Linked DNA regions of Homo sapiens: region 1 is reported to be linked to region 2. The links are microRNA targets in miRTarBase. Many come from high-throughput screens and were not tested one by one. Region 2 holds a microRNA gene; the other region holds the end of a gene's coding sequence.
Evidence for each region. Region 2 holds the annotated microRNA hsa-miR-1237-3p (UCCUUCUGCUCCGUCCCCCAG, at 1,495-1,515, shown strand). A microRNA usually pairs through its seed, bases 2 to 8, with sites in the 3' UTR of a target mRNA and lowers its output. Matches are read on the target gene's strand: a 7mer-m8 pairs with bases 2 to 8, a 7mer-A1 pairs with bases 2 to 7 and ends in A, and an 8mer does both.

Region 1: the mRNA of CREBRF is a reported target of hsa-miR-1237-3p. Seed matches in the 3' UTR shown: 8mer at 1,772-1,779.

What each region holds. Positions count from the first base shown.
Region 1 is chr5:173,133,059-173,136,466 of GRCh38, forward strand. It overlaps CREBRF (CREB3 regulatory factor), which reads left to right. Exons shown (of 9, transcript NM_153607.3): 9 at 572-3,408. The coding sequence ends at 687. Among named protein-coding and RNA genes, the nearest start is that of BNIP1, 9.8 kb to the right of the region's middle.
Region 2 is chr11:64,367,189-64,370,596 of GRCh38, forward strand. MIR1237 (microRNA 1237) reads left to right here and starts at 1,414; the gene lies at 1,414-1,515. It overlaps RPS6KA4 (ribosomal protein S6 kinase A4), which reads left to right. Exons shown (of 17, transcript NM_003942.3): 10 at 944-1,072; 11 at 1,280-1,413; 12 at 1,516-1,609; 13 at 2,258-2,431; 14 at 2,511-2,705; 15 at 3,037-3,196; 16 at 3,375-3,408. RefSeq lists an enhancer at 1,971-2,490.

The DNA of each region.
Region 1 (3,408 bases), not on the chromosome of region 2:
AGAAAATCTACATACTTATGCTGCTCCCACCTTTCTCCCTCTTCTCTTCCAACATTTCTTATTCGTTCATTCACTTTTTTAAATGAAGAAAAGGAAACTTAAACTGTATCCAGTAATTATAAAAATGACCCAAAACATCCTTCAGGTCTATATTTTCAGTTTCATGGGTGAAACCTACCCATGGAACTTGGTGAGTTTAGAGTAATTGGAAGAGACTGGCTGAGAGAACAGGGAAAAACCAGGGCGTGGGAAGCAGTGCCTGTCGGCAGCCTTTGGGTTTGGGTTTGGACTGTTATTTGGACTGTTACACTTGTCATCTACCTCACTTTAAATGTTGGTTTATGATTTTTCATGGCTATCCTTGGTTTGACTTTTCTAATCTTAAAATTTTAGACAGTAATATGAAGGGTAGCATTGTTTTCTGAGCTGCAATAACAAGTGCCAGGGAATTCATTTGGGACCAGTATCAAGCTGAGGGCCACACCTGAACCTCAGTTTTTACCAGCTCCTTCCCTTCCCTTCATGGCCTTCCATTTTTGTGTCTAGATGTGCCTTTTATTCTTCTCTTCAGGTCTACCAGTTGCTGGGCAAACCTCAGAATTTGTTAACCAAGTGTTAGAGAAGACTGCAGAAGGGAATCCCACTGGAGGCCTTGTAGGATTAAGGATACCAACATCAAAGGTGTAATCAGCCTCATTGGACCACTGGTCAGAAATGTCTGCGTTTTGTCACGTTATCCATTGTAAATTTTCATTCTGTTTTGCATGTCAGTTAGCATTATGTAAACATTTACAATTAGGTTACATTGTTTTAAGAACTAAGTAGCATAAGTGAAGCATGATCCAAAATACTTGATTATTGCATTTTCAGAGCATAAACCATGATTAAAACTGCTACTGGCATCAGAATTGAAAATCATATGTTTAAGTAAATGTTAGGTACAGATTACAAAAATCTGTTAAAGCAAAACATTTTGGAGGAGTGAAATAGTAAAATGCCAAGTATTGTGGCAGATTTATGCTCTGAACCACACAAAAAAATTGAGGAAGCATTTTTTTAAACAGTCGGTTTAAATTGTTTTTAGAATTATTGCTTTTTGTTCTAATTTTCCACAACCATTAATCTCACTTGTATATGGCACACCCAGCACTTGTGCCTGTGGGCCATATTAGATGTTCATTGTCAGAGCTCAAGATGATATATATAAATATATATATATATATATATATATACACACACACACACAAATGTCTGTGCAAGTAAGAAAAAAAAAGCATATTCTTTGTGCCTTGTATTTTGGGGAAACTCTAAAACTGGTAATATTTTGTATGATGAAAACCCTAATGAGAAAAAACAAGATATATAGATGGAAAAATTATGGGGTTTAAATGTTTTTTTGTTCCAACTCTTTTTCAGATTTTTTGAATGTATATAGGACTATGTTGAAATGTAGATATATGCCACAGAGTCTGTGTATTGTATAAAAAACAAAACAAAAAACAACAAAAAAAAGATGGCTCTAGAAAACTCATATTTCGGTACTTGACCGGAAGAAGACAAATACTTGCACATTATTGCGATTGTTTTATTTTTTGTACCAAAGACAAATGCAACTGATATGGCAAACTGCCAGTCTAAGTAAAGTTTTGCACAGCTTACATGATACTGTATGAATGTATGAAAAAAAAGGAGAAAAAAAAGAAAAAAAAAGGTCAGGGTTAGGGATCTTACTGAACTGTGAATTTTATTTCTGTTTGGGTCCAATTATCTACAGAAGGAGCATCCATACATACAAATATTATTTTGCTGTTCCTCTAGTTCGCTTCCATAGTAGATAAGTTGGTGGCCATTTAGATGTCTTTTATTTCTGCACTTATTGTAGGAAATTTTAATATATTTCATTTTAGTAAGCTATTGATAAAATAGTTTTTGACTTTGAAAATTAAAATGTTTATTTAGCTTATTGTAGTATACTTCCACCAGACAACAAAATAGATTATTTTTATTGTATTATGTATATATATATATGTAAAGAAAGAAAAAAGCTAAAAATATCTAATTCTTTAGTTGCCACTTTTCCGATTGATGTATTATTGTGCATGTAATATTTTCAAAGATCAACACAGGCTAAAACAAAAACAATTTATAGATTTTTATATTTTTGTACAGGTATTTTCAAACTAGCTTCTTCAAACTTAACATGTGACTTATTCTTCTATAGTTTCTAGAATTGAGAAACATTAACACATTTAGTTTTTAGGTGCTCTTTTTTGCTCATATAAAACAGCTTCATTAGTCAGTGTTTTAACTGTGTTCAAGCTTTACCTCTTGATGAGAAATTTCTTATGTCAAGGCAGCATTATAAACCTTCCCCCACAGATTTTTCCATCCTGTCTCTCTTACTGTTTTATTCTCAAATCTTGTGCTTTGAACTCTGAAAACTGGTGGCTTAAAAACTAAAAAAAGAAAAAAAGCATATTTAGCAAGGAAAAAAATACCAAAAATTTCAGGCATAGCTGCTGGAAAAATTATCTATTTCTCCATTACCCACTGTAGGATTTCTTTTTTAATTATACTTTGACTATAAAGTGTCAAAGTATAATTTGTTCTTTTCTTTTACTTTGTTACCCCATTTGTAAGCTATAGCATATGAAGCTATATATATAGCTTGTGAAGGTTTGATCTAGAACACCCAGTAACAAATGAACAATGTTGCTTACCTGCTTCTTTGACATCTTAAAAAAGAAATCCAAGGAGGATTGTAAGGATTGTCTTACCACCTTAGCTGAACTGTGATGCACAAGATTTTTCTATGTGTTTGGTGGAAATGTACCTGGTTTGTACATTCACGCTAAACAGATGATAAGCTCAAGTCTGATGGTTTAATAGAATGTAAGTTCATCGTTTAAAGCTTTTCCTTTTTAGGTTGGAGAAGGCAAAACACAGGCTTGCAAGTTGGAAGTATATGAAGTCTTGACAGAGTGTGTCTGGTAAATTGAAAAGTGTTTCAAACTATGGCAGTTTTGCAATCAGGTGAAAATCACCTCATGATATTCAGCTGATAAGGTTTATAAAATTGCCCCTTTCTAGCTGCTCTGTTAGGAATTCTGGTTTTTGATACTTTTTTCCTGTCTGCAAACCAGAATTTGATTTTTTGGTCTTGCATTTCAAAAAAAAAAAGACTTTGAATCTGTTTAGTAGATTCCATATCTTTGAGTTTCAGTGTTTTATATGTACTACTTAAGTTAAATAGTTAAAAGCTTTTAAATAGTTGAGCTTTTTAATGTTGACACTTTATTTTGTACCTATTTATATATGTATGTATATCTTAGAAAAGCACTTTGTTAAAAAAAAATTGCATTTTATATGATTCCTGCCATTTGCTGCTAAATCTGGGCTGGTCAGAAT
Region 2 (3,408 bases):
AGGCTGGAGTGCAGTTGGGCAACCATGGCTCACTGCAATCTTGAACTCCTGGGCTTGAGTGATCCTCCCACCTCAGCCTGCCCAATAGCTAGGACTACAGGCAAGTGCCACCACTCCCAGATAATTAATTTTTTTTTTTGAGACGCAGTTTCGCTCTTGTTGCCCAGGCTAGAGTGCAATGGCATGATATCGGCTCACCGCAACCTCTGCCTCCCGGGTTCAAGCGATTCTCGTGCCTCAGCCTCCCGAGTAGCTGGGATTACAGGCATGTGCCACCACGCCTGGCTAATTTTTGTATTATTAGTAGAGATGGGGTTTCTCCATGTTGGTCAGGCTGGTCTCAAACTCCTGACCTCAGGTGATCTACCTGCCTCAGCCTCCCAAAGTACTGGGATTACAGGCGCAAGCCACCGTGCCTGGCCACAACACGCAATTAAAATGACCCTTAAAAGCTCCTCAAATTGCCAGGACATGGATCTTTAGGAAAAGCAAAGAATTAACTCTGCCTTCTTTTTGCATTTCTTCAGTAGCTCCCCTTGCAGAAGAAGCCAAAGTCCGGCTTGAAAGGGAGGAATAAGTTTTTTTTCCTCAGCGGATAGAGTTGGATTCTCATAAGCTAAGCGTGAACTCAGGCCACACTTTCAATATATTCATTGGTCCTTTCAGTGCCTTCAGCCCTTGGCACCTGGGGAGGAATAAGTGGTCACTCTGATGAGAAAGTTGGGGTCACAGGCTGGTGGGGACAGACATGGCCCCAAGTGATTATAAAACCAGGTGGAATAAAAAGTGTCCACACATCCTGTGTGTACCAGAATGCAACTGGAACACCCCCCACTGCCCCCTTGTCCAGGGTCTTGCCTTTGCCTGGTTCCCCACCAGAGTCTCCTCACCCGCACCCCCAACCCCCATGCCCATGCCCATTCCCCGGACTCCCGCCCTGCAGGGATACTCCTTTGTGGCACCCTCCATTCTCTTTGACCACAACAACGCGGTGATGACCGATGGGCTGGAAGCGCCTGGTGCTGGAGACCGGCCAGGTCGGGCAGCGGTGGCCAGGAGCGCTATGATGCAGGTGGGCTGGGCTGGGCTGGGTTGGGGGGAAATTGGTTTTAGGAGAGGCCTAGGCCCGGGGACTCTAGGCCTAGATCCAACTGGCGCCCGCAGCGTGAGCTCAGCAAGGTCCTAAGCCTCTCCGACATGGGGCGTGGCGGGGCCGCGGGGCTACCAGGTGGGACCTCTGACGCGCCGCCTTCGCCTTCGCCTTCGCCTTCGCCTCCAGGACTCGCCCTTCTTCCAGCAGTACGAGCTGGACCTGCGGGAGCCTGCGCTGGGCCAGGGCAGCTTTTCTGTGTGTCGCCGCTGCCGCCAGCGCCAGAGCGGCCAGGAGTTCGCAGTCAAGATCCTCAGTCGCAGGTGGGAGGGCCCAGGCGCGGGCAGGGGTGGGGGTGGCAGAGCGCTGTCCCGGGGGCGGGGCCGAAGCGCGGCGACCGTAACTCCTTCTGCTCCGTCCCCCAGGCTGGAGGCGAACACGCAGCGCGAAGTGGCTGCCCTGCGCCTGTGCCAGTCACACCCCAACGTGGTGAATCTGCACGAGGTGCATCACGACCAGGTGATGGCTTCCGGCCAGGGGAGGGCGGAGAGAAAAGGGGCAGGCGGCGGGGCTTGGGGGCACTATGGGCGGGATCTAGGGGTGAATTGGGCGGGGCCTAGCGTTTGATTCGGGGCCCAAAGGGACCAGGGAGGCGCAGGGAGTGGAATTTGAGGGGAGTAGGGCCTGAGGACGGGAAGGCGGAGCTGAGGATGGACAAGAAAAGGGACTTTGGCCGGGCGCGATGGCTCACGCCTGTGATCCCAGCACTTTGGGAGGTCGAGGTGGGCGGATCACTTGAAGTCGGGAGTTCGAGACCAGCCTGGGAACATGGCGAAACCCCGTCTCTACGAAAAATACAAAAATTAGCCGGACGCGGTGGCGTGCGCCTGTAATCCCAGCTACTTGGGAGGCTGAGGCACGAGAATCGCTTGAACCCGGAAGGCAGAGGTTGCAGTGAGCCGAGGTGGTGCCACTGCATTCCAGCCTGGGCGACAAAGCGAGACTGTCTCCAAAAAAGTAACAAAGAAAGAAAGAAAGAAAAAGGACTTTGAGGAGGGGGTTCTCGAACATTGGCAGGGCCCGAAGGCCGGGGGCGGGGCCTGGGTGGTGGGAGGGGGCTTGCCGCCGTGGGTGGGTGTTGACCTTGGCCCGCCACGCCGCCCGCAGCTGCACACGTACCTGGTCCTGGAGCTGCTGCGGGGCGGGGAGCTGCTGGAGCACATCCGCAAGAAGCGGCACTTCAGCGAGTCGGAAGCAAGCCAGATCCTGCGCAGCCTCGTGTCGGCCGTGAGCTTCATGCACGAGGAGGCGGGCGTGGTGCACCGCGACCTCAAGCCGGAGGTGGGCGAGCTGCCTCGGCGGCGGGGCGGAGCGGTGGCGCCGGGGGCTGCCTCTGACCACTACCCCGCCGCCCTCGCAGAACATCCTGTACGCCGACGACACGCCCGGGGCCCCGGTGAAAATCATCGACTTCGGGTTCGCGCGGTTGCGGCCGCAGAGTCCCGGGGTGCCCATGCAGACGCCCTGCTTCACGCTGCAGTACGCTGCCCCCGAGCTGCTGGCGCAGCAGGGCTACGACGAGTCCTGCGACCTCTGGAGCCTGGGCGTCATTCTGGTATGGGACGCGGTCCTTGAGGCGGGGTCAGGGTCGCTCGGACCTGGCGTCTTCCTGATGTGCAGCAGCACGAGGGAGGGGACAGGGGTCATCTTGGTGGGGGCGGCTGGGTTTCGTCCGAAGCTGGGATCGGGGTGGTTCAAATACAGAGGTGGGGTCGCTCTGGTGCTAGAGTCGGAGCATCCGGGTATTGGGGGTTAGAAGTCAGGGTTCACCACGCGTGGGTCTCAGGAGTGCCCCTAGTGGGGAGGGTGAGTGGTTCTGTGGGAGCGGAGGGGTCAGCCTCGGCACCCCAGCCTGGGCCGGCCTCACCTTCCCCTCACCCTCCTAGTACATGATGCTGTCGGGGCAGGTCCCCTTCCAGGGGGCCTCTGGCCAGGGCGGGCAGAGCCAGGCGGCCGAGATCATGTGCAAAATCCGCGAGGGGCGCTTCTCCCTTGACGGGGAGGCCTGGCAGGGTGTATCCGAGGAAGCCAAGGAGCTGGTCCGAGGTGCGGAGCTGGAGGTCATAGACCATGGTTGGGGAGGGGGACGCTGGGACAGGGATGGTCACTGGGCCAGGTGTCCTGGTTGGGGATGGGTAGGGGAGGAGAGTGGGGCTGTTACGATCTCTTTGGGGCTCAGCCTTTACGCCAGGCTCCTCCCCACACTTCCTTGCCCCGCCTCCAGGGCTCCTGACCGTGGACCCCGCCAAGCGGCTGAA